Linked DNA regions of Homo sapiens: regions 1, 2, 3, 5, 6 and 7 are each linked to region 4. Evidence: fine-mapped expression QTL. Tissue or cell type: whole blood. Region 4 holds a variant in brackets; each other region holds the start of a gene. Each region is shown on its reference strand, or each on the opposite one.

Evidence for each region. PIP is the estimated chance that this variant, and not a neighbour inherited with it, causes the effect.
Region 1: it holds the start of CSF1R, and the variant in region 4 is the best candidate, but not a certain one, in a credible set for the expression of CSF1R in whole blood (TOPMed, PIP 0.87).
Region 2: it holds the start of TMEM92, and the variant in region 4 is fine-mapped to the expression of TMEM92 in whole blood (TOPMed, PIP above 0.99).
Region 3: CD14 starts here. The variant in region 4 is fine-mapped to the expression of CD14 in whole blood (TOPMed, PIP 0.92).
Region 5: it holds the start of NECTIN1, and the variant in region 4 is the best candidate, but not a certain one, in a credible set for the expression of NECTIN1 in whole blood (TOPMed, PIP 0.86).
Region 6: GAPT starts here. The variant in region 4 is the best candidate, but not a certain one, in a credible set for the expression of GAPT in whole blood (TOPMed, PIP 0.89).
Region 7: DHRS13 starts here. The variant in region 4 is fine-mapped to the expression of DHRS13 in whole blood (TOPMed, PIP 0.97).

What each region holds. Positions count from the first base shown.
Region 1 is chr5:150,084,632-150,088,708 of GRCh38, reverse strand. It overlaps CSF1R (colony stimulating factor 1 receptor), which reads left to right and starts at 2,155. Exons shown (of 21, transcript NM_001288705.3): 1 at 2,155-2,330. The coding sequence starts at 2,282. RefSeq lists an enhancer at 2,068-2,097 and a promoter at 1,850-2,282.
Region 2 is chr17:50,272,668-50,276,667 of GRCh38, reverse strand. It overlaps TMEM92 (transmembrane protein 92), which reads right to left and starts at 2,202. Exons shown (of 5, transcript NM_153229.3): 1 at 2,098-2,202. The coding sequence starts at 2,166. RefSeq lists silencers at 1,826-2,120, 3,258-3,597.
Region 3 is chr5:140,630,807-140,634,883 of GRCh38, reverse strand. CD14 (CD14 molecule) reads left to right here and starts at 1,709. Exons shown (of 2, transcript NM_000591.4): 1 at 1,709-1,815; 2 at 1,904-3,152. The coding sequence starts at 1,813. The coding sequence ends at 3,028. It also overlaps a transcript of TMCO6 not described here. RefSeq lists enhancers at 2,065-2,564, 2,777-2,836, 2,565-3,066.
Region 4 is chr7:50,218,858-50,222,934 of GRCh38, reverse strand. No RefSeq gene overlaps it. Among named protein-coding and RNA genes, the nearest start is that of IKZF1, 84 kb to the left of the region's middle. The variant C/T (reference allele first, on the strand shown) is at 1,717.
Region 5 is chr11:119,727,488-119,731,560 of GRCh38, reverse strand. It overlaps NECTIN1 (nectin cell adhesion molecule 1), which reads left to right and starts at 2,361. Exons shown (of 6, transcript NM_002855.5): 1 at 2,361-3,086. The coding sequence starts at 3,008. It overlaps NECTIN1-DT (NECTIN1 divergent transcript), which reads right to left and starts at 1,978. Exons shown (of 4, transcript NR_120587.1): 1 at 1,755-1,978. RefSeq lists enhancers at 1,315-2,175, 2,176-3,037, 3,837-4,073 and silencers at 1,976-2,385, 2,446-2,765.
Region 6 is chr5:58,489,252-58,493,328 of GRCh38, reverse strand. GAPT (GRB2 binding adaptor protein, transmembrane) reads right to left here and starts at 1,894. Exons shown (of 3, transcript NM_001304431.2): 1 at 1,788-1,894.
Region 7 is chr17:28,901,124-28,905,185 of GRCh38, reverse strand. It overlaps DHRS13 (dehydrogenase/reductase 13), which reads left to right and starts at 2,107. Exons shown (of 5, transcript NM_144683.4): 1 at 2,107-2,368; 2 at 2,485-2,603; 3 at 3,570-3,693; 4 at 3,885-4,062. The coding sequence starts at 2,242. RefSeq lists silencers at 1,885-2,514, 3,016-3,208.

The DNA of each region.
Region 1 (4,077 bases), not on the chromosome of region 4:
TACAAAAATTAGCTGGGCATGGTGGCGCATGCCTGTAATCCCAGCTACTCGGGAGTTTGAGGCACGAGAATAGCTTGAACGCGGGAGGCAGAGGTTGCAGTGAGCCGAGATTGCTCCACTGCACTCCAGCCTGAGTGACAGAGTGAGACCCTGTCTCAAAAAAGAAAGAAAGAAAGAAAAAAAAAAAAAGATTTGGTTTGCTAGTACATTTTTGAAAATTTTTGCTTTCTATATTCATGCATTTGTATTGGTCTGTAGTTATCTTTTCTGGCAATGTCTTGGTCTAGCTTTGGTACCAGAAAAATGCTGGCTTCATAGAATGAGTTGAAAAGGATTGGTATTAATTCTTCTTTAAATGTTTGGGAGAATTCACCAGTGAAGCCATCTGGTCCTGGGCTTTGCTTTGTCGGGAGGTTTTTGATTACTGATTAAATTTCTTTTCTTGTTATAGGTTTATTTGGATTTTCTTTTTCTTCTTGAGTCAGCTTTGATTGACATTCATGATTGCTAAAGGTTCAAAACACTTTTCTGAAAAAGAAAGTACATATATACACTCATAAATATACATACAAACACACACATACACACCACACACACACCTGAGTACACGGGAATGATCATTTTCCTGGATCAATGTTATATCAGGATTTTTCAATTTCAAGAAGGAACTTTAGGCTGGGTATAGTGGCTCATACCTATAATCCCAGTACTTTGGGAAGCCAAGGTATGCGAATCACTTGAGCTCAGGGGTTTGAGACCAGCCTGGACAACATGGTGAAACCCCATGTCTACCAAAAATACAGAAATTTGCTAGGAATGGTGGCACATGCCCCTGTAGTCCCAACTACTCAGGAGGATGAGGTAGGAGGATGGCTTGAGTCCGGGAGGTGGAGGTTGCAGTGAGCCGAGATCACACTACTGCACTCCAGCCTGGGTGACAGAACCAAACCCTGTCTCAGAAAAAAAAAAAGAAAAAAAGAAGAAGAAATGACCATGTTCTTTAGAGATAAGAAGTAAAATACTAAGCGAATCAACTAAAAGAGGTAAAAGCAATTGCCTCCAGGAAAAGAGGGAGCAAAGGAATGCTATATATTTTAAGAATTATGCAGAACAATTAGATTCTTTGTAAAAATAAATAAACAATGTAAGTAACGCACAAAAGATAGTTTTATAACCAGACTGCTGGGATCCAAATCCTATCTCCACCATTTGGTAGCTGTTTGACTATGGACAAGCTTAAGGCATTTGATCTCTCTGAGCTTTAGTTTTCCCATCTGTGAAATGAGAATGACAATAGTACTTACCTACATAAAGTTTTGCAGTACTAAAGGAGACAGTGAATGTAAAAGGTTTGGCTAGTAAATGTCCTGTAAAAGGAAGCTTATTGCCAATATTATCAGGCTCTCCCAGACCAACCTGTATACAGGAAGAAAACAAACTCCGTTTCTCCTATAGTCTCACAACACAAAATACTTCTGACCCCAGATGTAGAGGATGGGGCATATTTCCCCATACACCAAGCAATCAACCAATTGTTCAGATTCTGCAGCAGACACGAATCTGGTGCCCTCCGATTCAATTTGAACACTATATTTACCTAGAGATAACGTCAGATCTCACAGCTTGAAGGCTTGAGCCAGGAGTTTGAGGCTGCAGTGAGCTATGATCGAGCCACAGAGCTCCAGCCTGGGCAACAGAGTGAAACTGCGTCTCTAAAATAATAATAATAAATTTTTAAAAGATATGCATTACTTTGGAGATTCCAAGGATTTTAGGAGTTGTAAGCCAGGACATCAGGGTAAAGAAAAAATATATATGTCACAATATCATGCAACCTAACTTCTCTTTGGGATCTGCCAGAGCCACCTGATCACTCTGAAGACCCTCATTTGTGCTACTGACTAACGGTCTGGCTGCTCTTGGACATGTCTCTTCTCCCAAGACCCCTTGAAGATGGCTTTAGAAGGGCCCCAAACTTAGCTAGCTCCCCCCAAGCTCAGGCTGGCCCTGCCCCAGACTGCGACCCCTCCCTCTTGGGTTCAAGGCTTTGTTTTCTTCTTAAAGACCCAAGATTTCCAAACTCTGTGGTTGCCTTGCCTAGCTAAAAGGGGAAGAAGAGGATCAGCCCAAGGAGGAGGAAGAGGAAAACAAGACAAACAGCCAGTGCAGAGGAGAGGAACGTGTGTCCAGTGTCCCGATCCCTGCGGAGCTAGTAGCTGAGAGCTCTGTGCCCTGGGCACCTTGCAGCCCTGCACCTGCCTGCCACTTCCCCACCGAGGCCATGGGCCCAGGAGTTCTGCTGCTCCTGCTGGTGGCCACAGCTTGGCATGGTAAGAGCAGAACGGGGGGTGGGGGACTTTGTTGGGGTGTGATGGAGAAGACCCCTGTGAAAGGATTCAGTCCTTGCCCCTCACTGGGTGTCCTCAGGCTGTTTTAGTCTCCCCAACACTGGACTGCAGGCTTGTGGGTATCTGCTTTGGAGAGGTAGTGGGGTGAAAAGAGATGGGTGTGGTGGAACTGGTCCACCTGGTGCTGTGGATCTGTCCCAGCTCTGCCAGCGACTCACTGTGTGTCCTGAGCAAGCCTCTGATACTCTTGAGGCTTCAGTGTCCACTTCTATTCAATTGCAGGTGTTGGGGGCAGGGGGACAGTGATAGACTAGACCAGAGCAGTGCTTTTCATACTTTCCTGTGCATACAAGTTACCTGAGGATTTTGTTACAATGCAGATTCAGACTCAGTCGGTCTCAGGTGCGACCTGAGATTCTGTATATCCAACACACTCCTGGGAGATGTGAGATGCCGGCACTGCTGGTCCAGACCTACACTGAGTTGGGAGGACCTGGAGAGCTCCTGATGGCTCTGGCAGCTCTGCCAGCCTGTGATTCGATGATTCTATGCAAGATCTGATTTGGAAGGGCCTGATAGGGGTGGTGGTTCTTCCTTGGGTGGCTTGTGTAAGGGGTCAGAGGGGAGAGACAAGAGGTTGGCCTCTCTGGCCCAGGGCTCAGGAGAGGGGAATTCGGGGTGAAATAGGTATAGGGCTAGAGGAGGGATTGGGAAGAGGCCAGTGAGGGTCTCCTGGACCAGAGCCCTCCCAGACACAGGCTGCCAAGTCTCAGGAGGTCCCCAGGCTGTAGCAGTTCTGCAGAATTTCCATCTGGGAGGGAACATGACTAGAGGTGAGGGGCTGCTGTGCTTGGCTTGTTGGCCCAACAAACACATTTCTATTGCCTGCTTATTCAAAGGGACCTTGGGGGAGGATGGGGATTGAAGGGGAGAAAGGACAGCCTCATACTGGCCTCTTCACAGAAGGACCCTAAGGCCGTGGCGCTTCTGGTCCCTGATGAGGAGGAGATGGCCCACTGACCATCCTTCTCTGGCCCAGGCAATCACACTGAGCTTGAGTATTTGGGTTTTTTTTTTTTTTTTCCTGAGACAGAGTCTCTCTCTGTCACCAGGCTGGAGTACAGTGGCACAATCTCGGCTCACTGCAACCTCCACCTCCCGGGTTCAAGTGTTTCTCCTGTCTCAGCCTCCCAAGCTGGGATTACAGGCATACACCATCATGACTGGCTAATTTTTGTATTTTTAGTAGAGATGGGATTTCACCATGTTGGCCAAGCTGGTCTCGAACTCCTGACCTCAGGTGATCCACCTGCCTTGGCCTCCCAAAGTGTTGGGATTACTGGTGTGAGTCACGGCGCCCGGCCTGGACTTCTTATTTTGCAATGTAACTTACATGCAGTAGAAAGCACAGGTTCTTAAGTTCAATGAGGTCTGACAAATGCACACACAGTGTACCCGCCACCCCCTTCATCTCAGAGAGTCCCACAGGTTTGATTTCACTGCCTTGTCCTATCCTTACACCCACAACCTGCCTGTGGGGCAAAAACGGAAAAGTATCTGAGCCAGGTCTCAATTTAATTTTATTTTTTTTATTGAGATGGAGTCTTGTGGCCAGGCATGGTGGCTCACACCTGTAATCCCAGCACTCTGGGAGGCCGAGGCGGGTGGATCACAAGATCAGGAGTTTCAGACCAGCCTCGCCAATATGGTGAAGCCCCCTCTCTACTAA
Region 2 (4,000 bases), not on the chromosome of region 4:
GGGGAGGGATGTAGGTGCCAGAACATAGGAAATGGGTGGTGGGGAAGGGCATCTCTCACCCCACCCTAGCCTCCTGGGACAAACAACCAAGGCTAAAAAATAGGAAGCCAGCTTTGGCAAAACCACCGTTATCTTTATCTTTATACCTTTATAAAATATTTCAATTGCAAATCACAACAGTAAAGATAAGAATACCAGTGATAGCCAATAAGAGTTGGGGTAATTCCCCTTTTCCACGCTCAGTCCCAGGCTGAGTACCATCTCACAGGCTTTGTCCCCTTGTGGGGACAGGAACAGGAAGGAACCCCTGCAGGTTGGCCCAGAAAGGGTGAGTCTGTGAATCCAAATCACACAGCACACAGGAATGACTATAGAATTGGAGACAGGCTGGGTGCGGTGCCTCATCCCTGTAATCCTAAATACCTTGGGAGGCTGAGGTGGGTGGATTGCTTGAGGCCGGGAGTTTAAGACCAACCTGGCCAACATAGCGAGACCCTGTCTCTATTCTTTTTTCTTTTTTCTTTTTTTTTCTTTTTGGAGATGGAGTCTAGCTCTGTTGCCCAGGCTGGAGTGCAGTGGTGCGATCTCGGCTCACTGCAACCTCCGCCTCCCAGGTTCAAGTGATACTCCTGCCTCAGCCTCCCAAGTAGCTGGGATTACAGGCACGTGCCACCATGCCTGGCTAATTTTTGTATTGTTAGTAGAGATGGGGTTGTTGGTCAGGCTGGTCTGAAACTCCTGACCTCACGATCTGCCTGCCTCGGCCTCTCAAAGTGCTGGGATTACAGGCGTGAGCCACTGCGCCTGGCCTCTATTCTTTAAATTAAAAATATATATATACAGAGAGGGAACTTGGAGACAAATCGAGGGGTCCATCCAGGCACTCAACAGCACCCCTTCCCCCTCAGACCCCACTCTGGCCCTTGTCCTTTTCCTGGACCCCAGCTAATAAGTAATGGATAATTAACAGGTTTAGTAAATTAATCTCAAGTTCCGGTTTGGGAGGGGGAGGAGCTCTTCTCCCAGATTGTCTCCCCACATTTTAACCAGGGGGTAGTCTTGTCTGGGGTGGTTCAGAGGCTGAGTTTTATGGAGCGTCAGGGTGGTCTTGGGCTGGGAGTAAGTAAATCTCAGCTTACTTAACTCCAGAATTGAAGGTATTAACAGCACCTCGCCCCTGGGGTTGGTGGGAGGGGTAAACCAGAGGATGCCCAGCCCAGCATTGACACAAACTGACCGCCCAGTGATTTAGAAGGAACACCTTGCTCACTAACCCGGGTCCACGGAAGGGTTTTGGCAGAGCCTCTCTGAAAGCTCAGCCCAGATGTGTGAAGGTGCCCTGTTCTAAAATCCTAACTATGGAAGACCCTGACTTCCCTCCGGTTCTTAAATGGAAATAAGACACAAATGCATGTTCTAGACCCGTCTCTGTTCCCAGGATAAACACCCATCCCAGGACCGGACAGCTTTCCCCCATCACCTGTAGAGTTTACTTGGGAGGAACAGAAGGGCGGAGGGAACACTCGAACCCTACACCTCCCTCTCAAAATCACAGATTTCAGAGGTCACCCCAGCCTTGGTCAGGCAGCCAGGTCAAATCCCACCACAGGCTGGGATTACTTACCCCTAGAAGGGGACAAAAGAGCCTTCTCTCCCCTAGGGAACAAGCAGAGACACAGTCCCAAAGAGGGTGGGGACATCCCAGGGTCCCCCAGCACTGGAGGAACTGAGCTGGGGCTAAGTGCTGGCCCAGGTGTCCAAAGCTCAGGCGGGAAGGAGCTGGAAGGATAAGCTGAGGCTAATAAGGGGTCCAAAGTCCCTATTCACAGAGACGTGCTAGGTGTCAGATAAGGTGGTGGGTGGTGGCCACTTCCCACCACAGGATCCCCCTCAGAGGTGGGAGAACCCAGCCTCTCCCAGAGCCTCCTCCGCTGCCCCCACCTCCACCTCCACAGCAAAGAGAGAAAGGAAGTAGCTAACTGTGTGTGGTCAGGAGGAAATCCTGATTCTGGAAGGTGGCGACCAGGCTCCAGAAGCAGGCTCCTGACCTACAAGGGTAGGGCCCAAAAGTTCAACAACCTTACCTCCCAGTCTCACCTTTTGGGGGCCAGCCAGCAGGCTGAACAGCAAGGTGGGCGCGAGGCCGGGGACCCAAGCTTGGGACATCCTGGCTTGGGGGCCACTGAGCTTTCCTGTGTAGAGAAGGCGGGGCTGCGACCTCTCCCACTTCTCTCCACCTATGGGGCCCCGCCTCGGGATGGGGGCGGAGCTGCACCGGGAGAGGCGGACTCGGGGCAGGGAGGGGCTGGGAGGAGGAAGGGAGGAAGGGAGGCGCAGAGGTCTGGGTTGGGTTTTGGGATTTGGGAGGTAGAAGAGATTAACGGATTTTTAAAAAAGCGGTCCCGGGCGCGGTGGCTCACGCCTGTAATACCAGCACTTTGGGAGGATCACTTCAGGTCAGGAGTTCGAGACCAGCTTGGCCTACATGGTGAGACCCCCCGTCTCCACTAGAAATACAAAATTTAGCCGGGCGTGGTGGCGGGTGCCTGTAATCCCAACTACTCAGGAGCCTGAGGCAGGAGAATCGCTTGAACCCGGGAAGCAGAGGTTGCAGTGAGCCGAGATCGTGCCAGTGCACTCCAGCCTGGGCGACGGAGTGAGACTCCATCTCTAAATAAATAAATAAATAAATAAATAACCTAAATTTAAAAAGAGGTGGGATCAACTCCACACCGCTGAGCTGGGCCTTCCTAACTCCCAACTCCTCCACTCCTAAGTGCCCCAGACTCCAGGGAGGGGTGCCGGGACCGGCGGGAGTGGGAAGGGGACGTGGAAGCCCCTTCTTATCTGGACCTCTGGGTCTGGTGAGAAGTCAAATGGGGGCAGAGGTTGAGGGAGGGGAAGGCGAAGGTTCTAGGGTAGATTTTGAGGGGTTATGGTTGGGGGATATCACCCCATTGTGTTTTGACCAAAAAGGGAGGGACAGAGCAGCCTGGCTGATTTCAGAGTGCCCTGAGATTTCCAGGTCGAGGAAGGAAGACCAGGAGCACAACGTGGGTACCTTCGTGTCCCCTCCCCTCTTGAAATCCTACAGGAGGTGTTGGTGCATTTTCTCCCATTGACAAAACGGGAACTCAAGGCCCCAGGGTTTAGACTGCCCCGGGGTCCGCAGCTGGGGCTGGTCCTCTGCCAGGCCCGCCGGGGCGCGGGCGAGCAGGCCCATCCAGATTCCTGGAAAGACCCCGCGGAGGCCGCCCCAGTGCGGAGGGGCCTGATTCTGAGCCCCCTGCGGCCGCCGCCTCCAGCACTCCAGGCGCGGAGCTTCCGGGAGCGGCCGGCAGGTGGCAGCGTCGCCCAGCGCGGGTGCCCCCGGGAGCCGGGAGGGGCGCGGCCGGGGCTTGTGGGCTGGGGGCGCTGGGCGAGGGCGAGGCAGGAGCAGTGCAGCCAGGACCGCGGGAGGGGGAGAGGGGGTGATGGAGCGTGGGGCGCTGCTCCCTGGCCCGGCCAAGGGGGACCCTGAGAGGCTCAACGTCATGTCCTTGGGCGCCTCCTGCTGTGTCGCCAATCTGTCTTGACCCCTGAAAAACACCCCCGACGTCGTGGGCGTTTCTTCTCTTTCCTTGCTCTCTGCCTCTCACCCTTCTCCCTCATCTCTCCCAGTCATGTTCTCTGTCTTATATTTAACCCCTCTGTGTCTCTCCCCGTTTCTCCCAGCCTCTGTTTTTCTGTTTCGGTTTCTTCCCATCTGTCCGCACCCAGTTTCTCTCGAGTTCCCAGCCTTTCCCTCTGTTCTCCCGTCTGTTTCTCCTCTCTCTGTTCACCTCTGTCTGCCTCGGCGGAGGCGTCTGTTTTTCTCGGTTTCTCTGGTCCCTTCTCCTTGTCCCTGGTTTGGTCCTGCACCCCCAGTCTCTCGGTCTGTTTCTTATGCTGTCTCCCTGCTCTCTCTCTCCCTTTCCCTGTCTCTATTTCCCATTACCTCCTAGCCCTTTTTGCCCCTTAA
Region 3 (4,077 bases), not on the chromosome of region 4:
TGGAACCTGGGAGGCGGAGATTGCAGTGAGCTGAGATCGCGCCCAGCCTGGGCAACAAGAACAAAACTCCGTCTCAAATAAATAAATAAAAGTAAAAAAGACTTTCAGGCCGGGTGTGGTGGCTCTCGCCTGTAATCCCAGCACTTTGAGAGGCCAAGGCGGGCGGATCACCTGAGGTCAGGAGTGCCTGGTCAACATAGTGAAACTCTGTCTCTACTAAAACTACAAAAATTAGCCGGGCATGGTGGTGGGCTCCTGTAATCCCAGCTACTCAGGAATCTGAGGCAAGAGAATTGCTTGAACTTGGGAGGCGGAGGTTGCAGTGAGCCAAGATCACGCCACTGCACTCCAGCCTGGGCAACAGAGCCAAACTCAGTCTCAAAAAAAAAAAAAAAAAAAAAGACTTTCATATAGTTCTTTCCCCAGAGGTCTAGGGATGTGGACCTGTGAGGGCTGTTGTAAATGCGTAGCTCCTTATTCTCTGGGACATTTGTTGTTTTTTTGTTTTGTTTTGTTTGCTGTTTTTTTCATTTTGTTTTGTTTTCTGTTTTTGTCTGTTTTTTGCGAAACTGGTGAGTTACTAATTAATCCTCATTCAACATAGTCCCATCCCTTCCTTCCTAGGGCACAGAGATTGTACTGAGGGGAGGGCAGGAGAGAGCAACGTGCAAGTGGGAAAACTGATTCAAAATACCTTGCTTCACAATTTCAGGACAGAAAATGGATAGTGTAAGTGACCCAGAGACTTGGCCAATGTGTCTCTGTTAAATACATCCACTTTTAAGAAAGTTAGTACTGCCAGGCACAGTGGCTCACGCCTGTAATCCCAGCACTTTGGGAGGCCGAGGCGGGTGGATCACAAGGTCAGGAGTTCAAGACCAGCCTGGCCAAGATGATGAAAACCTGTCTCTACTAAAAAATACAAAAATTAGCTGGGTGTGGTGGTGGGCACTTGTAATCCCAGCTACTCGGGAGGCTGAGGCAGAGAATTGCTTGAACCCAGGAGGCGGAGGTTGCAGTGAGCCGAGATCATGGCACTCTACTCCAGCCTGAGCAACAGAGCAAGACTCTATCTCAAAAAAAAAAAAAAAAAAGAAAGAAAGTTATTACTTAATCAAAGGAGCAAGGAAAAAAAAAGGAAGGGGGAATTTTTCTTTAGACCAACTTCCTTTTCTTGAACCTAATTCTACCCCCCTTGGTGCCAACAGATGAGGTTCACAATCTCTTCCACAAAACATGCAGTTAAATATCTGAGGATATTCAGGGACTTGGATTTGGTGGCAGGAGATCAACATAAACCAAGACAAGGAAGAAGTCAAAGAAATGAATCAAGTAGATTCTCTGGGATATAAGGTAGGGGGATTGGGGGGTTGGATAGTGCAGAGTATGGTACTGGCCTAAGGCACTGAGGATCATCCTTTTCCCACACCCACCAGAGAAGGCTTAGGCTCCCGAGTCAACAGGGCATTCACCGCCTGGGGCGCCTGAGTCATCAGGACACTGCCAGGAGACACAGAACCCTAGATGCCCTGCAGAATCCTTCCTGTTACGGTCCCCCTCCCTGAAACATCCTTCATTGCAATATTTCCAGGAAAGGAAGGGGGCTGGCTCGGAGGAAGAGAGGTGGGGAGGTGATCAGGGTTCACAGAGGAGGGAACTGAATGACATCCCAGGATTACATAAACTGTCAGAGGCAGCCGAAGAGTTCACAAGTGTGAAGCCTGGAAGCCGGCGGGTGCCGCTGTGTAGGAAAGAAGCTAAAGCACTTCCAGAGCCTGTCCGGAGCTCAGAGGTTCGGAAGACTTATCGACCATGGTGAGTGTAGGGTCTTGGGGTCGAACGCGTGCCACTCGGGAGCCACAGGGGTTGGATGGGGCCTCCTAGACCTCTGCTCTCTCCCCAGGAGCGCGCGTCCTGCTTGTTGCTGCTGCTGCTGCCGCTGGTGCACGTCTCTGCGACCACGCCAGAACCTTGTGAGCTGGACGATGAAGATTTCCGCTGCGTCTGCAACTTCTCCGAACCTCAGCCCGACTGGTCCGAAGCCTTCCAGTGTGTGTCTGCAGTAGAGGTGGAGATCCATGCCGGCGGTCTCAACCTAGAGCCGTTTCTAAAGCGCGTCGATGCGGACGCCGACCCGCGGCAGTATGCTGACACGGTCAAGGCTCTCCGCGTGCGGCGGCTCACAGTGGGAGCCGCACAGGTTCCTGCTCAGCTACTGGTAGGCGCCCTGCGTGTGCTAGCGTACTCCCGCCTCAAGGAACTGACGCTCGAGGACCTAAAGATAACCGGCACCATGCCTCCGCTGCCTCTGGAAGCCACAGGACTTGCACTTTCCAGCTTGCGCCTACGCAACGTGTCGTGGGCGACAGGGCGTTCTTGGCTCGCCGAGCTGCAGCAGTGGCTCAAGCCAGGCCTCAAGGTACTGAGCATTGCCCAAGCACACTCGCCTGCCTTTTCCTGCGAACAGGTTCGCGCCTTCCCGGCCCTTACCAGCCTAGACCTGTCTGACAATCCTGGACTGGGCGAACGCGGACTGATGGCGGCTCTCTGTCCCCACAAGTTCCCGGCCATCCAGAATCTAGCGCTGCGCAACACAGGAATGGAGACGCCCACAGGCGTGTGCGCCGCACTGGCGGCGGCAGGTGTGCAGCCCCACAGCCTAGACCTCAGCCACAACTCGCTGCGCGCCACCGTAAACCCTAGCGCTCCGAGATGCATGTGGTCCAGCGCCCTGAACTCCCTCAATCTGTCGTTCGCTGGGCTGGAACAGGTGCCTAAAGGACTGCCAGCCAAGCTCAGAGTGCTCGATCTCAGCTGCAACAGACTGAACAGGGCGCCGCAGCCTGACGAGCTGCCCGAGGTGGATAACCTGACACTGGACGGGAATCCCTTCCTGGTCCCTGGAACTGCCCTCCCCCACGAGGGCTCAATGAACTCCGGCGTGGTCCCAGCCTGTGCACGTTCGACCCTGTCGGTGGGGGTGTCGGGAACCCTGGTGCTGCTCCAAGGGGCCCGGGGCTTTGCCTAAGATCCAAGACAGAATAATGAATGGACTCAAACTGCCTTGGCTTCAGGGGAGTCCCGTCAGGACGTTGAGGACTTTTCGACCAATTCAACCCTTTGCCCCACCTTTATTAAAATCTTAAACAACGGGTCCGTGTCATTCATTTAACAGACCTTTATTGGATGTCTGCTATGTGCTGGGCACAGTGCTGGATGGGGAATTCATCATACTTAGGCTTTCTTCATCCTAACTCCCTAAGAAACCCTATCTGTCCTCCTCAAGAAAAGAACTGCGGGGATAGAAGGAGCCAGGAAAGGACTCCTGGCTAGGGCTGCATGGGAGAAACAATGAGTGTGCAGTCAGGGCTTTCTGAGCAGATTATTGGCATCTGGATTAAAAGGTATTTGCATGATATTTGGAAGATACAAAATATTTCCTCTCCTATGCACTTCCCAAGAGCCAGCTGCTCCCTTTCAAAGGTAATAAAACCCACAGCCATTTGCTTATTTCCTTATTCTTTCTCTCTCTCACACACACACACACTCACACACCCTCCCTCTCCCTCTCTGTCTGTCTCCCTTACCACTCAAGGAAGAGGGACAGCCTCCTATCCTGCACAAGCTCTGAGTTTCATAATATTAGGGTTCCTCTCTTGTAAAACCTCTCTTCACCCGGAGGCTTTCACTGTGTCACTCCCCGACATAATGGGAAATTTGGGCCTAGGGAACTGACGCAAGATACAGTCGGTCTCTGAATTAGAGATCCTGTGTTCTGTTAGAACACATATGCAGATAACCTTTTCAGGCTGACTGATTGGCAAATAGGAAAGCATCTCAGACTCTTCAAAACTTCAGAATAAACAGGATTTGTCCTCTAGTCCACATTAGCTCAGAGACCTACAGCATCAGCCATCAAGAGGTGCTGTTTCTTCTGAGCCCCTTCTTCATTTCAATGAGGAGGCAGCCACATCCATCAGAGAGCTAGATGCCTGCCTCACAGGGAGCATGGGAGAAAGGTGGGAGGAGGCATATAGGCCCAGCACCTGCCTCTGGCCAATGTCCAGAGCCACACAG
Region 4 (4,077 bases):
TTTTGAATGGTATTGTAAATGAAATTTTTAAAACAACGTTCAAATTGTTTATTGCTCATGTATAGATTTGCAACTGATTTTTGCATATTGGTGTCATATCCTACAACCTTGCTGAACACATTTATTAATTCTATTTTTTTAGTGTGCTCTGTAGCATATTCTATATATAAGATCATGTCATCTGGAAATAAATATAGTTCTACTTCTTCTTTTCCAGTCGAAAAGCCTTTTATTTCCTTTGCCTGACTAATTTCTCTGGCTGGAACTTCCAGTACAATGTGGAATAGAAGCAGTGAGAATGAATATCTTTGTCTTATTCCTGATCTTAGGGGAAAACAATAAGTCATTTTCTATTAAATTAGCTGTGGATGTTTCATAGATGTCTTTTATTAGGCTCAGGAAATTTCCATTTTTTTCATAGCTTTTTGAGTGTTTTTATCATGAAGGGGGTTAGATTTTTGTCAAATGTCTTTTCTGCATTAATTTAGAGGATCATATGGTTTTATCATTTATTCTGTTGATATGTTATTTTACATTAATTAATTTTCAGATATTAAACCAACCTTGAATTCCTGGAATAAGTTCCACTTGGTATGCATACACATGGTATACAGTTTGTGTTATATGTTACTGGATTTGGCTTGCTAGTATTTTGTTGAAGGTTTTTATATCTATATTAATATGATATATTGATTTGTTTTCTTGTGATATCTTTGGTATCAATAGGAAGTTAAGAATTTATAAGCGGCAAGGAGTAGGGGCAGATTGGAAGTATTCCAAGTCTCCTAACTAACTAGGGAAAATGTTTCAAGTCACACAACAGTGCAAAAAGAGCAAGAAAGAGTATACTATGTTTTCTGTTTATCTTTGACACTTACATTTAGGGCTTCCTTAATCTATTTTATCCCATTTGTGAGCTTACTTATTGAATTGGCTAAAGAGACAGGAACAAAGCTTTATAGCCATGAGAGAACTGCTGTAATCTTGGTATCATGGATGGAATGTGCCTTTGAATAGACTTGATTTCTCTTACCTCTTTGTTTCTCTATATTTAAGGGATGAGCTATGAAAAGCCTATTAAAAATAACATGAGCCAGTCTCATTATGCTTGGCTGAACTTAGATTCCAGTAAATGTTTGTGGATTCCTTTTCTAATCACTACATTAACTGGAATTAATAACTGAGAAACAAAATACTACTACTCCCAATTTTTTTTAAGTTGTGAGTGTATGGCATTATTCATTTCATCTCCTCCCAGCAACTTGTGTTTATGCACACACACACACACACACACTCCCCTGCCCCATGCAGGTATGAATATGTGTGTATATGCATCTCTGTGCTTATATGATTAAACATGACTCTACTTTTGAACATTCAGTGAAAATTAAGAAATAATTCATACAGATGATATAGGATGGCTTAAGCCTAAAGCTATCATTCTGGGTTAAAAGTAAAATAGTACATGCAAATGAATTTCCTATCATAAGTTTCTTATTTCCAATTTTCACAGCAGCTCTGACATAGGTTTGAGGGCTGACATTTCATCCTTGGCTGTGCAAAGTTCCCAGATCATGACGGTTTGTTGCTGGGAGTCCAGAGCAGAACTGGAGGAAAGGTGCTTCCACTGCTTCTTCCCAGAGAGGGAGGGGCTGGGAGCTCCTTGCCACAGGCTGACCTCTGTCCCCTCCCTTGTTGAGCTGGTGGTTGCCCAGT[C/T]CCTGCAAGTGTTACCTCATTTCCTCTATTTGGAGGTCCTCCTCTACCTCTTCCCTAATTCATCTCCATGACGTGTCTCAAACTTTTTTGCATGAAGTTGTCACTAATTCACTTCACTCACTCGGATCACTCCTTTGGGCTCCTCTATCTTGAGATAGGTCAGATGCCATTTACAGAAGAAACTCCATCTCCAGCCACGTAATGAAGTAAAGAGATAGTCATAGGTGGTGCTTAGTCTCCCCACTGGGGTAAGAAAATGGAGGCTGGAGGAACCCACAGGGCAAGGATGCTGTCAGGGCAGGGGAGGCTGGGCACAAGTGTCCAAGAGCACAACAATCTCAATCTTGTTCAGGGAAAGTTGTCAGCTGTGGGAGTGGAAGTGGGGTAGGCAGGTGGTGATGGGATCCCAGTGGTAGATGGAGTGTAGACCCTGAGCATATTGGCTAAATGATGCCAAGCAGTATGGAACCACTTAAAAAAATGGTTCTTGGAGCCTTGCCACCTGGTAGGGTGTTCAGAAGCTGGACTTCAATATTGAAAGCAAGGCATTTGGAGGACTAAATGGAGACAGAAAAGGGCACTTAAAGTCCTTTCCATAGACTAGGGCATGCACAGGACAGGGAGAGTTGGTAATTGAGGCACAGAACAGGAGCTCCCTGGTTAGCCACGTAATAAGAGTGATGATATTAGGTTCTGCCTGTTGAATAGAGAGAAGGGGATGGTTGCAAAAGTTTAAGTAATTGCAACCTCAGTCAAAACAGATTCAGGAACTAACTGTGGGAGAGGCAGTGAGCATGTGGGTATGGGTGATCCCTTAACTGAATTGTAAGAAAGTAGTGGGAGAGATCCAGGGTGAGGAGGTTACAGTGCCATGCCAGGAAAGGAGACCTGCTGATTGGGCCACTCGGTAGTTAGGTGAGTAAGCCAGGTCAAGGGCTTACAATTTTTCAGAATAGAGAGGATCAATTTTGTAAGGGCATCTTGAAGTGATCACATTCTCAGAAACAAGCCCATGGTAGTCAAACTCACATGATGCCAAATTATAATCCAAAAATAATCCTTTTGTGAATTTACCATAAGAATCATTTCTTTCTATTGATATTGACATATGTGACCCAGGGTACCACTTCCAAATCAGTAACTATTAGGATATGATTGGAGCACAGGATGGTGAAAACTCCCAGAACACTTCTAGGTACTATTCAGGTCTCTTTAATGCCAGTGTGGGCCCAGTCCCAAATTTGACAAGCATCACTCATGGCTTTCTTCTCCTCCCTTTTCTAATTCAGATTCTTTCTACCACCACCCTCTCCTCAGGTCTGTCTCTATCATTGATGGCACTACTCTTTCTTCATTTGATTTATGTGTGGTCTTATTCTCTCTTGCTTTGATTTAGGAGATACTGCTTTTCTAAAGACCACCACAGAATGCCACTTTCTGCATTGCTTGAAAATTCTGGTAACTGAACTTAGAAGCTCATCTTAGGTGTAAGAACAAACTCTTTTAACTTCTCTCTGTGGGCCAAACAGGCAAAATGAGACAGCCTGTGTCCTTCCAACATTTTAGATCCTTAGTCATTCTGATGAATGAGTGGATGGAGAGATGGACGAAGAGCTCACAAACTCAGAAACAACCAGAGGTGTAACATCTACTAGTCTTTTTGTCTTTCATGAAATCTCACCTTCTCATTATTTTCCTTATCTGTTTGATTATCACAATTGAGCACTTATTCCTAAGCACTATTGCTTATTATGCCTCTTAGGGTTTCTACTCCAGAGACACACAGCCTCTTCCTGACCTGGGAATGTACCACCACTTGGTGCTGAATTGTGACCCCAAAGTGCTCAAGGACCCTCCCCAGGAAGGCAGAACACATGCTTAAACCTGGGACTCTTGAGAAAATGCACATTCTGATTCTGTACATCTGAAGTGGGGCACGAGGATCTGATTTCTACCAAGTTTCCAGGTGGCACAGGTGCCACTTGTTCCTGGACCTTGAGTAACAAGGCCCAAGTGGTAAAATCAAGGGCTTGGAGCTTAACTCTCCTGAGTTGGAATCCCATTTTCCTCCATTATCAGCTTCATGACCTTAGACAAATTCTTCAACTTCTCTGAGCCTCAGTTTTGTTTCTGAGCATGGGGTTGCCACTTGGTTGCCAGGTTCTTGTGAGGATGGAGGTCACGTATGTTCAGTGCCTCTGCCAGTGTGTGCCACCTACAGCCCTCACAAGGCCCTTCCCTTCAAGCCCCATCTGAGTCCCTCCTCCACCCAACGTCTGGCTTCTCTATCTGGAGGATCCTGGAAGGACAAGATACAGCTGTTCCCAGGGCCTTTTCTAAGGCATGCAGTCTGCTCTGGGG
Region 5 (4,073 bases), not on the chromosome of region 4:
AAGCCTGACCTAAAGATGGAGAGAGTGCAGCCGGGTACAGTGGCTCATGCCTGTAATCCCAGCACTTTGGGACACCAAGGAGGGCAGGTCACCTGAGGTCAGGAGTTCCAGACCAGCCTGGCCAACATGGAGAAACCCCGTCTCTACTAAAAATACAAAAATTAGCCGGGCGTGGTGGCACACACCTGTAATTCCAGCTACTCGGGAGGCTGAGACAGGAGAAACACTTGAACCTGGGAGACAGAGGTTGCAGTGAGGTGAGATGGCGCCACTGCACTCCAGCCTGGGCAACAGAGCAAGACTCTGTCTCAATGAAATAAAATAAAATAAAATTAAATTAAATTAAAATAAAATAAAATAAAATAAAATAAATAAAATAAAATAAAATAAAATAAAATAAAGATGGAGAGGATGGGAGGGTAAGAGCAGGGAACAAGAAGACATTGGTACATCTGGGATTGCCCCTTCAAACCATGCCTTCAGCTCCTGCAGTGTGCCTGGCACAGAGCTAAAGGCCATCACAATGAATTCAATTCAACCCTGGCCCTTAAAGCACTCAGCAGCCAGATGGGAGATTCCCAGCTGCCACAAACTAAATCTGATAGCGTGTTCCCCAGTTTAAAACCCTCCTAGCAGCTACCGGGCATGATTCACGAATCTGCAGACCTCTCCTTTCCTCAAGTCTTAGGCTCAGGCTAAACCAGTCAACCCTTTGTGGGCCCCCTACTCACCTGACTATTGCTTACCTTCATTCCTTTGCTCGTGCTGACCCTCTACCTTAAATCCAGTCTCTTTTATGTCTCTGCCCTCCAGCACTTACCTTGGTCTGATAGATGACTCACCGAGACCCTGTGTTCGCTTCCCTGAAGCCTTTACACCAACCCCACCCCGGGCTAAACTGGGCACTTTTTCTGTGACCCACCAAACCCACACAATCCCATATTAAATATTTGTTTACGACATCCGTTTCTATGTCTGTCTTCCCCCACCCTTCAACTAGATTGAGTTCCTTCAGGACAATGATGATGTCTCTGTATCCCCAAGCCAGGCACTGTGTTTTGACACAAAGAAAGCCCAGGTTACATTTGTTAAATGTAAAAGACCATACAGTGAGTGGGTGAGTGTTCATGACAATGCCAGATCTGACTACTTCCGCGAGAAACCGAGACACTCCAGGGCCGGATTCCAGACAGTGGGAATATGGCGCTGTCTTTGCCCCTTCTCCAGTGAGGAACCAGAATTTACGTGTTATCAGAAACAGCCACTTCCCCTCTGCTCCTGCCCGCCTAGAGGGCTGGGCAAAGGGTAGAGGGAGCAGTGTCCGGCCAGGGTCTGGGGAGAATTCGGCTCTCCTTAGTGGGAAACTCTGTCTGTCTTCCTCCCCCAGGGGGAGGGGATGGGGATAGGAGGACCAGAGTAAGGGGAAGAGGGAAGGCCCGGAGGGCGCAGTCGCCTTGGCAGAAATCCTACCACACCCGGATGTAGTGGGTGGTGAACGGGATGGGGCGGAGAGTCCCTGCCCTGCCAGGGACACTGACTGGACGATCCACTTTCGCGGGAATCCCACAAATCTCTCAAAACTAAGGTCCTGGAAACTGGAGGAGAGCTCGTTTTCAGGCTATGTTTGGGCAAGGGCGGGGCGCGGGGTGCTTCAATTTTTGGAAAAGGAACCCCCGAAGGGAGCAGGGATTAGAAAAGAAACTCTACCAGAAACCTCAGTGGGCCCGTCTCACCCACTCATGCCCACCACTGACTTCTCTGGCAGCTCCCCGTCGCCCCGCGCACCGCTGCCTCTCCGTGGAACGTCCAAGTGGTGCAGAGGAGAGGGATCTCCGGAGACTGGGTTCTGTTGCGAGCTATGCCACGTTCCGTCCCGGGCGGAACTCTTCTTTGGGCCTTTGTTTCCTCGTCTGTGAAATGGGGCCAGGGTGGGAGCAGAGGGCTTGCAGAAGCCCTGCCAGCTCCCACGCTGCTAGCCGGGATTCTCCATCCCGCCCTCTCCTCCACCGCCGCCCCCGGCCCGGTCCTAACTCCACCCCCACCCGCCGCGCCTCGGCGCCGCCGGCCGCTAGGGGTCACTGCCTGCCTTTGTCAGCGGAGGAGGAGGGCAGCCCGCGCTCCAGCCGGCTCCCCAGCTGGAAGGCGGCCGAGGGGTAGCTCCCGAGCGAGGGTCCTGAGCCGGACCCCGCAGCCCGCGCTCGCGATCCGCCTCTGCTTCGGTCGGGAAGGCGCGTGCGCTCGGGCTCCGACCGGGCCCCGGCGGGCGCGCATCGAGGCCAGGAGGGGGTTAACGCTAACCCCTCCCCTCTGGCTGACATCACGGGCGAGCGGGTGAGAGGCTGGAGCTCGGCGAGTGAGAGAAAGAGAGCGAGAGCAGCGAGCGCGGCTCCACATTGTTGCGGATCGCCGGCACCCGGCAGAGCGGCGGCGGCTGGGACGCGCGGCGCCTCCGACCCGTTCTCCTCGCGCCCGGCCGCGCAGCCAGAGCCACCCGGGCCGCCGACCGCCGAGCCCCGCGCCCGCCGCCTGGGCCCCGAGCCTTCTGCGCCGCCCGGGTGCGTCCCGCCACCCTCGGAGGACGGCCGGCCATGGACGCCTGCAAGTTGGAGCCGAGCGGGAGGGTGTGAGCGGGCCGGGGCCAGGAGCCCGCGCCGCGCAACCGGGCAGCCGGGCGCGCCGGGGGTGGGTCCCTCTCCCCAGCCCCGCTCTGCGTGGAAGAAGAGGGCGGGGACCGGCGCCGGGAGGAGAGCGGAGGAGGCGAAGGGGCATGACTCGTGCAACTTGCGGCGGGCATCTGCCGAGCCTCTGAGCCGGCGGCGGCCCGGGGCCCGGACTGCGGCCGCGCGGATCCCACCCAGCCCACCCCGCCCCGGCCGACGGCTGCAGCTGACCTGGATCCTTCGAGCGCCCGCCGACCGCCAGCGATCTTCCCTCATCTTCCGGGCTGGTTTCTGCTGCGCGAGGAGCGCTGCCCTCGCCGCCCCTCTCGCCGGACCCCCGGCCCCCGATGGCTCGGATGGGGCTTGCGGGCGCCGCTGGACGCTGGTGGGGACTCGCTCTCGGCTTGACCGCATTCTTCCTCCCAGGTAAGAGCGCTCACCTCTGCTGTCCCCACCCCCATCCAATGCCTCCCCGGGGCTGGGAGCCGGATGGCGGGCACGACTGGATTGTGGGGAGTGAAAGGAGCCAGAAAAGTTGGGTCACGGCTTGGGTAAAGGGGGTGGGAGGTGGCACGGCGGAGAAAGAGGTTGAGAAGCCGAACCGCCTGCCCTGCAGGGAAGCAGTCAGATGCACGTCTCTATGTAGCATGAAAGCACTTTCTCCGCTCAGTTCTTTACAAAAAATAATAATATGTAATAGCGTTCTGTTTATTTAATAACCAGCTCTCTGCTCGGGAAGCAGTTTGGAAACACTGCGTGTTACATAAATGCAAAATAATCACCGTAATCACCGTCTTGGGGTGGGAGACAACAGCCCCAGGGGGAGGGCGTCAGTCTCGGAGCTGCGGGTTTGGAGTATGGCGGGGGGGCTTCGTCTCTTTCGGCGGCCCCTTTGCCAGACGGCTCAGGACGCTCGGGCCCCCTCCCGCCCCACACCGCCCCACAGCGGGCGCGGAGAGTCGGCTGCTGCGGCAGAGGCGGCTCCTCGCTCACCTGCGGTTCCTTTCCTGGAGGGTGAGGCCGGGGCAGCCTCCTCCCGGCCTGGCGCGGGACCGGGCTCCCCCTCGGAACTCTGCTCCCAGCTCTGGGGGCTCTCCCTGGAGGAGACACCGCGGGCTTCCTGCCATCCAAGTAGCTGCATGACCCACTTTCCCGAGGGTGCCCCGCGTGTCCTTCCTCGAGGTGCGGGCTGCCGGCAGCCGAGGGGTTAACCTCGCGCCCGACCCCGGGGTGGCCCTGGTGGCCCATTCTGACGGGTGGGGTGGGGACGGAGGCTGGGACCAGCCCAGGCATATTGTGCTGGGGAATGAACTGGAAAATGCGTTTAGGAGGCAAATCCGACCGAGTCCCCTCGCCTGGATTTAACCCTTTGTGTCCCTGGGGAAGCTGCCGAGCTCGCCGGCTGACTGGACA
Region 6 (4,077 bases), not on the chromosome of region 4:
CTGGGCTGCATGTTCCATTGTGATTTTATCAACAAAACATTATTACTGTATATTTTCAGTCTAGACATAGACATAGATCCAACAGTGCCTGTGAAATGATTATTATCATCTATGGAATGTTATTATCATCAATAATGTTTAGTTAAGAGTTTCAGCTTTTAAAAACTGTTACAGGGATTATCTCATTTAATCCTATAGCTGCTATATGTAGTGGGTACTATTCATATCACCATTTTATAGATAAGAAGAGAGGCTTAAAGAAGTTAAGTAACTTCCTTACAACCAAAATGTGACTGAATGAGAATTCAGGTAAAAATTTCCCCAAAATATTATTTATCCAAATATCTGTAACATGCTACTAAGTGCATCAGTCAGAAAATTTGTATAGCTTGATTAGCTCTGAGGTTCTCGAAGGTTGGAAATCATATATTATTTACCTTTGTATTACCAACACCAGCATTAGACACAGAATGACTAATCTATTAGACATTTGTTAATGAATGAAGTAATCTCCTTATGGGATAATAATAGTAACAATGAGAAGAAAAATAGAAATTCACAAAGTGGTGCTCTGCTTTCAGTGAGTTTTCATGAAAAGTTTAATGGTAATGAACGTTCATAAATTTGTCCAAGGTTAGAATATATTAATATGCAAATATTTAATTTGACATTTCATAAAAGAAAATTAAATAAGATGTGCAGCTAATTTATACAATTTTTTGATAAAAATACAGGGACAAGCACCCCAGATGCAGAAACATTTTAATCTCCTTGGAATTTTTGGGAGTAATATTGAGGTTGAGAACTGTATGGTCCGCCACATAAGATTTACAATCTGCAGGGTCCCTCCTTTATAAGGCCAGCCGTGCTTGTGTTCAAGGACAAAAGTTTAGCCAAATGACTTTAATCATTAGGACCTCATTTCCTGTCTGAAACAGATGAGCACCAATTATCTGCAAGATATTTTATGGTATACATGGTTAATGATTTAAGAAGTTATTTGCCAGAATATTTGAAATAAATTTACAAAATACACTTTAAGTATTGATTGAAATTAATCAACTTTTTGAAAGATACTAGGCCTGCAACAGAAGTCACGGTGAGGGTTGAGGAAGGCTAACTATTGTCACTTCTGTAGCTGAGGATAAGGCAATAAATTACTCTCTTAATTTTTAAGAAGAAAAGGCATTTTTACCATCTATGTTATTCTATGTAGAGTAGAAATTCTGGTACATCCAAAATATTAAAATTGTTTGTCTAAGAGATATTTACCAAGATAAAGACAAGAAGACTTTTTACAGAAAAAGAAATGCATCATTTTCTTCGAAATAACATTAGAGGAAAAAACCTGTGAGACATGAACAAAGACCTACTATAATGAAAAACATATTTTAAACAATAACCATTCAAATATAGTTTAACACTTAAATAATGTTCACTTTGACCAGTTTGAAAGAAGACTCTGTTTTCATTTTGGAAAGCAGTTCCAACAGGTTACCTAACAATTTGACATTTTTCTTAAAATCGCAAATTGTTGAGAAACTTCAGGAATTTTCAAGTAAGAGAATGCCCTGCTGTTTGGAAACAAGGTAACAGCAAAGCATAATCATATTGTAAAGAAACATTAACATCACTCTCAGTTTGTAAATTGGGTTTCCCCCTTACAGCTACGTAAGGCATTTTTTTCTAAAAACTGTAGTAAGATAAAAATCATTGATTAATTAAAGACAAACTTGTTTCTTATAGTGTTTAATCATCCAAATACCTTAAATCAGGTTCTTACTTACCTCAAGATTGGTGTGTCAAGCTCTCTCTTTTGTTCTTTTGGTTATGTTTTAAACCTGCATTGGGTTAGAACTTGTTCCTCTTTTTCACTTTGGTGGGTTACTTCCTTCTTTCCCTCCTTCGTTCACGCTATTTAATACTTGCAAAGTTTCCTGGCTCTAGAGGAAGTCAGTATCAGATGCAGCAGAATTAAGATAAATGGCGTGAGGTTTTGAATAAGGAAGTCTGGCCCTTCATCTTTGTCAAGTAATAGTTTTTTAACTGTGTCAGAAAATAATACGTAAAGCCTACATGGTTTTTTATTTGGGCCATATTTGCAGTTCCCACTTTAATATCAATAAAAGTCACTTCACTTGTACTTTGATTTTTTAAAAAAAGAAATATTTTAATTGTAGTAACACATAGGTCTTGGGCTTTTATTATTATTATTATTATTTACTTGTGTTGCTAGACCAGTCCTCTCTTCAAATATTAATATTATGTACCAATGCTCCCAAGTTATAGCCATACAGGTCAAATCAGTGTCCCAATTTGGGTTTGGAAAATGTTAACGTTCTTTTAAATTTATAAATAGGAATTTCCTAAGGTATGTTTTGAGGCCCATTACCCCTGAGATATGCTAGCAGCTCTTCCATCAAGTAAATGTGGGGAATACTGCTTCCCTGGAGATTCATGGGTACATCAGCATGCTAAAGGCTCTCAGCAGTCTTACAGCCAGCAAACAAAATAAAACCAAATAAGAAAAAGAAATTGTTTAACTTTGCTTAATAATAGTAGTCAGTATGTTCCTAGCACTAAGTACTCCAAACCTTTTGTGTAATACTCAGCAAATCTTGGCAACAACCCTGTGAGGGAGAAAAACTGTTATTAGTCCTATTTTACAGAAGAGGAAACAGAAGCACACAGAATGATCACTTGCCCGACAGAGCCTGCAGTTTGCCCCCAGCACCTGTGTGCTAAACCACTGCACTGGCTGCCTTGCTAGATTGAGTAACATGTTTCCCACATAGATACGCTTACCAAGAGCATCTCTTGGAGTCCAACTCATGGGAACACACACAGTGGGAGATGCTGAATTAGACAAATTACAGATGAATTCGACAGATGAGATGACAAAGTAATGGAAAATTTGTCTTTTAAGTTGTCTTGGAACTTTTTGAACCACAGAGGATTAACTTTGCATAAGGTGGTTTTAAAAAAGAGGATTTAGTTACTGAAATAACTACTGGACATTGGAAGGACAGGACGTATTATTAACACTTGCTGAGCACTGACATTATGCCAGGCATTGTGCTAAGAGATGAGGATGCAAGAGTGAATAAGCTCCCTGCAGCACTTAAAGCCAAGTAGAGAGGCTGCTGCGCCCACAGAACATTTCAGATCAAAGTGATAATGCCTAAGAAAGACAGGATTATGGACAGGGACAGTGGAGGTAAAGGAAAGAGGCATCCAGCTCAGAGGGTGGTCAGGGAAGGCAAGACCTGAGCTAAGCCTCATAGAATAAGGTGTTAAGGCAGAATAGGGGTGTCCTGGACAAAAATCTTACAGTGAAGGAGGTTATGAAGTTGTGAAGCTATGAACTTGATGTGCTCCACATTCTCACCACTATATTTAACTTCAGTATTAGCCACCCCTCCAAATAATATACACACTCACCTGCCTAGGCATACATCTGTAAGAAAGGCAATTTATACAATGTTTGTATAAAATTATGATTTTCTCTAGAAGGCAGGACAACTGGTGCTCATTCAGCTTTTGCCCTTTGAAGTTAAAAAAGTTGCTTAACCCCTTATTACTTTAGTTTTTCTAACGGAAAATAAAATGGAGGGAAAATGACTGGCACTTTCCTCAAATAGAATTTTTTTGATGTAATGGATATAATTATTCTTCAAGTTTATAAAAGAAATGCTGTATATATTCAAAATAGAATTATTGGATCATTGTCATTTGTAGGGATTATGTTTTATGTCTTGAATTCTATATTTTCCTACTTCCCAATCTTTGGCCTCGCAAAATACATATTTATTGTCTCCTTTCAGTTCCTTTTTAATCACAGCAATTATGTCTAGGTTTTCTTTTCCTGCTTTTTCTTCTACAGTTATACGGTTTGGGTAGTAAAGGGCTTAGGAAGTAGTTTATTGTTCTGTAGTGTAATATGGACTGGATCTTTCATCTAAGTAAATCTTCCTCTCCTATTAATTGGTGATAGCAACCACTTTACTTAATTGTGATTTAAGTTCCCAGCAATTTCTTGTGTGTCAGTTAGTATCCATTTCTTTTAACCCATGCCCT
Region 7 (4,062 bases), not on the chromosome of region 4:
TCTAGCAGGTGGGGGGCCTTTTGAACAGGTCTCATTCCCATAGGGAAGTTTGGTAGGGGAGGTGTTGGAGAAAAGTGAGCCAGGGTGGGTGGATGACAATGGAATGACATGGGTGCGTCTGCTGGCCCGGGGGGAGCTGTTTCTCCAGAGAACCCTGACTGATAGTGGAATCTAGTCTTGACCTGTCACTTCTAGTCATGTGATCTGCAGTCACACTTCTCTACAACTGCTATTCCTCATCAAAAAACGAGTCTGCTGCATTACCTTAATTCTCAAGTCCCGGGGACCTTCATTAAACCAAATTCCATGCTTTCCTCCCAGATCTTAGTGAAAAACTCTCCAGGAAGTTTTCCTGAGGTCAGCCTCCTCAGATGGAGAGCACCTCTGTGTATATTCCAGCACTGTTTGTGTAGGTGCATCTGCTTGTGTGTCAGGATTTTGCCTTAGGGATAGAAAATGAATATTCTACCCCCAGCCTCATCCCACAGCATCTACAATGGAAACCCGAATCCGCAGTGCAGCTAAATAGGAAACTGGCCCTGGAATCTGAGGTCTGTCCCTGACTTTCATCTGCCCATGCAGGCGTCATCACTCTGCTCCCGGTGCCCTAATGGGCTTTTTGAACTCCCTAAGGACAGAAACTTGTATATCTTCCACTCGGAATTTCCAAGTCTAACTACACTGCTGGGCACACCATAAGTGCCAAATACCAGGTTCTAAATTGTACTGAATGTATCAGGCAACGGCCTTCTGCCCTGGAATGGTCTTACCCATTTGTTCCTAGCCAGCCCCACCCTTCCTGCCATCATGGTCACTTGTAATTGAGTGATGGAGCTTCTCTGCCTGTCTCTTATCACCTATGAGAACCATTCCAAAGGCAAATTTCCTCCTGAAAGGCAATAACAGATTTTACTCTCTATCTCTTCCTGCTTCCCTTCAGCCATGGAAGGCACTAGTGGGGTTGAGGTAGGGAGATACAGAGGGGGAATGAAGGAGTGAATTCTGACACCCCTTAACTGCCTGTGCCACCTTTAACAGTGTCCTCTCTAGCCTGTGTGGGGAGAACACGGAAGAATCCTAGAAGCTGGGGGCTGGATGTGAAGATAAGAAAACGAAGGATTTGGCCCAGTGCAGAGGCTCACACCTGTAATCCCAGCACTTTGAGAGGCTGAGGCAGGTGGGTCACTTAAGGTCAGAAGTTTGAGACCAACCTGGCCAACATAGTGAAAACCCTTCTCTACTAAAATACAAAAATTAGCCGGGTGTGGTGTCACACACCTGTGATCCCAGCTACTCTGGATTCTGAGGCAGGAGAATTGCTTGAACCCGGGAAGCGGAGGTTGCAGTGAGCCGGGATCACGCCACTGCACTCCAGCCTGGGCAACGAGAGTGAAACTCCGTCTCAAAAGAAAGAAAGAAAGGAAAGAAGGAAGGAAGGGAGGGAGGGAAGGAAGGAAGGAAGGAAGGGAGGAAGGAAGGAAGGGAAGGAAGGAAGGAAGGAAGGAAGGAAGGAAAGGAAAGGAAGGAAAGGAGAAGGATTTGTGCAGAAGGGAAGGAAGGAGAAGGATTTGTTCTTAGAGGGAAAAGCATCTAGGACTAGACTCAAAGACACACGTGTATTCATGTACACACCTAACTTCAGAAGGGAGGGACTGTGCTACATACACCTCGAGTAAACATATGGAGATATGCAAGCACATGCACTGGCAGAGACTACAGATGCAGGCACATACCTGGAGGGACTCTGCCAGAATGCACACAAACACCTACAAGGTGCTTACAGGAGCTCACACACAGGATCCAGAGGCACGCACACAACCCAAAGGGTGATCCTCAGGGACATGGGCACATACACACCTAGAGATCATTCACATACAAGCGTTGCAGATGCATGCACATACCTAGCGTGCACTCACAGGGTGTACGTGGACACACACACCCAGGAGTTCACACAGGCACACACCTAGGGGGCGCTCCCAGGGCCCAAGCGCACACACTCACCTCAAAGGTGTCCACAGAGGCACACGCCCCCAGGACGCCGACGCACGCCTAGGGGGCGCTCGCAGGGCCGGCGCGCACCCGCACGCGCACACGCCCCTGCCCAGCCTCCTGCCCGCCTCCGCCTTCGGAGGCTGACGCGCCCGGGCGCCGTTCCAGGCCTGTGCAGGGCGGATCGGCAGCCGCCTGGCGGCGATCCAGGGCGGTGCGGGGCCTGGGCGGGAGCCGGGAGGCGCGGCCGGCATGGAGGCGCTGCTGCTGGGCGCGGGGTTGCTGCTGGGCGCTTACGTGCTTGTCTACTACAACCTGGTGAAGGCCCCGCCGTGCGGCGGCATGGGCAACCTGCGGGGCCGCACGGCCGTGGTCACGGGTGAGTGCGGAGGCGGGTGAGTGCGAGCTGGCGGGGCGCGCGGAGAGGAGGCCGGGCCGGCGGTAGCAGCGGCCCGCCGGGCTCAGCTCAGCTCGGCTCCCGCCCGCGGTCCGCAGGCGCCAACAGCGGCATCGGAAAGATGACGGCGCTGGAGCTGGCGCGCCGGGGAGCGCGCGTGGTGCTGGCCTGCCGCAGCCAGGAGCGCGGGGAGGCGGCTGCCTTCGACCTCCGCCAGGTGAGAGGCAGCGGGGGCGCGTGGGACGGTGAGCCGAGAACCCGCCGGGACACAGAGAAGCCAGCAAAGGGGCTGCGGAGGATCCGGGTCCAGGGAGGAGAGCGCGGCGCGGGCGGCTGAGCGCGAAGAGGGAGTGCACGGAGCGCTGGGGTCACCCGAGGAAGGCGCACCAGAGCCGAGTGGGGGAGGGGCTTCCTGAAGGCCGTAATTGCAGTTCTGAGACGTTTAAGCATCAGTAGAAGTTGGGTTAATGATCAGTAGGAAAGGGAACAGCAGAGGGCACAGCATAAGCAAAGGCTCTGAGGCAAAGAGAGCTGGACTGATCTGAAAAACTGAGAAAAAGATTTAATGAGGCTGGAGCACAAAGTATGAGGAAGATGGGCAAATGAGGGGGCTGGAGAACATTCTAGAGCCTATTGAGAAGCTTGGATTTTATAGATTGGGCAGCAGAGACCAGTGGAGACCATGAACAGCCCTCAGTAGGCTCCGGACTGTCAGAATAGCCTTTGGAAGGAACTCCTTTGTGGCTGCGTGGTGCCTGGAGTGGGGGGGCAAGAGCGGGAGAGAGGAGACCAGTGAGAAGTTACAGATTTTAGGGTAAATGGTAATGGGGAAAGGAGGTGATAATAATAATAGCAAGTACCTACCCAGTGCTGCTAGAGTGTATTTTACACGTTAACTCCTTTCATCCTCACAAAAGCTCAGTGAGATTGGGACTGTTGTTATTATTATTCCCTTTACGCAGTGAGAGAACTGAGACCCAGAGAGATTAAGTATCTTGCCCAAGGTCACACTTTAGTAAAAGGCAAAGTCAGGATTTGAATCCACACACTTATCTAGTACACTCTAAGACACAGGGGCAGATTTTAGTAAACAGTAGGAGATGGACTCTCAGAATTTGGTGCCTGGGGAGAGGGAAGAGGAGAGAGATGCCTGGTGACAAGCCCAGCCCTTGCCTCTCCACAGGAGAGTGGGAACAATGAGGTCATCTTCATGGCCTTGGACTTGGCCAGTCTGGCCTCGGTGCGGGCCTTTGCCACTGCCTTTCTGAGCTCTGAGCCACGGTTGGACATCCTCATCCACAATGCCGGTGAGGGGCAGCAGGCCCTGCGTGGGGGTGGGGTGGCGGGTGGCCAGGGGCAACTGCCCCCTCCAGCGGGGGCCCTGCTGGGGCCAGTGGACACATGGGAAGGATGCCCCCTTCTCCCATCTCATAGATAGGGATGCCAAGGCTGCAGAGCTCCTTCTGGAGCAGCCGCTCACATTTAGCCTCTGCCCCAGGTATCAGTTCCTGTGGCCGGACCCGTGAGGCGTTTAACCTGCTGCTTCGGGTGAACCATATCGGTCCCTTTCTGCTGACACATCTGCTGCTGCCTTGCCTGAAGGCATGTGCCCCTAGCCGCGTGGTGGTGGTAGCCTCAGCTGCCCACTGTCGGGGACGTCTTGACTTCAAACGCCT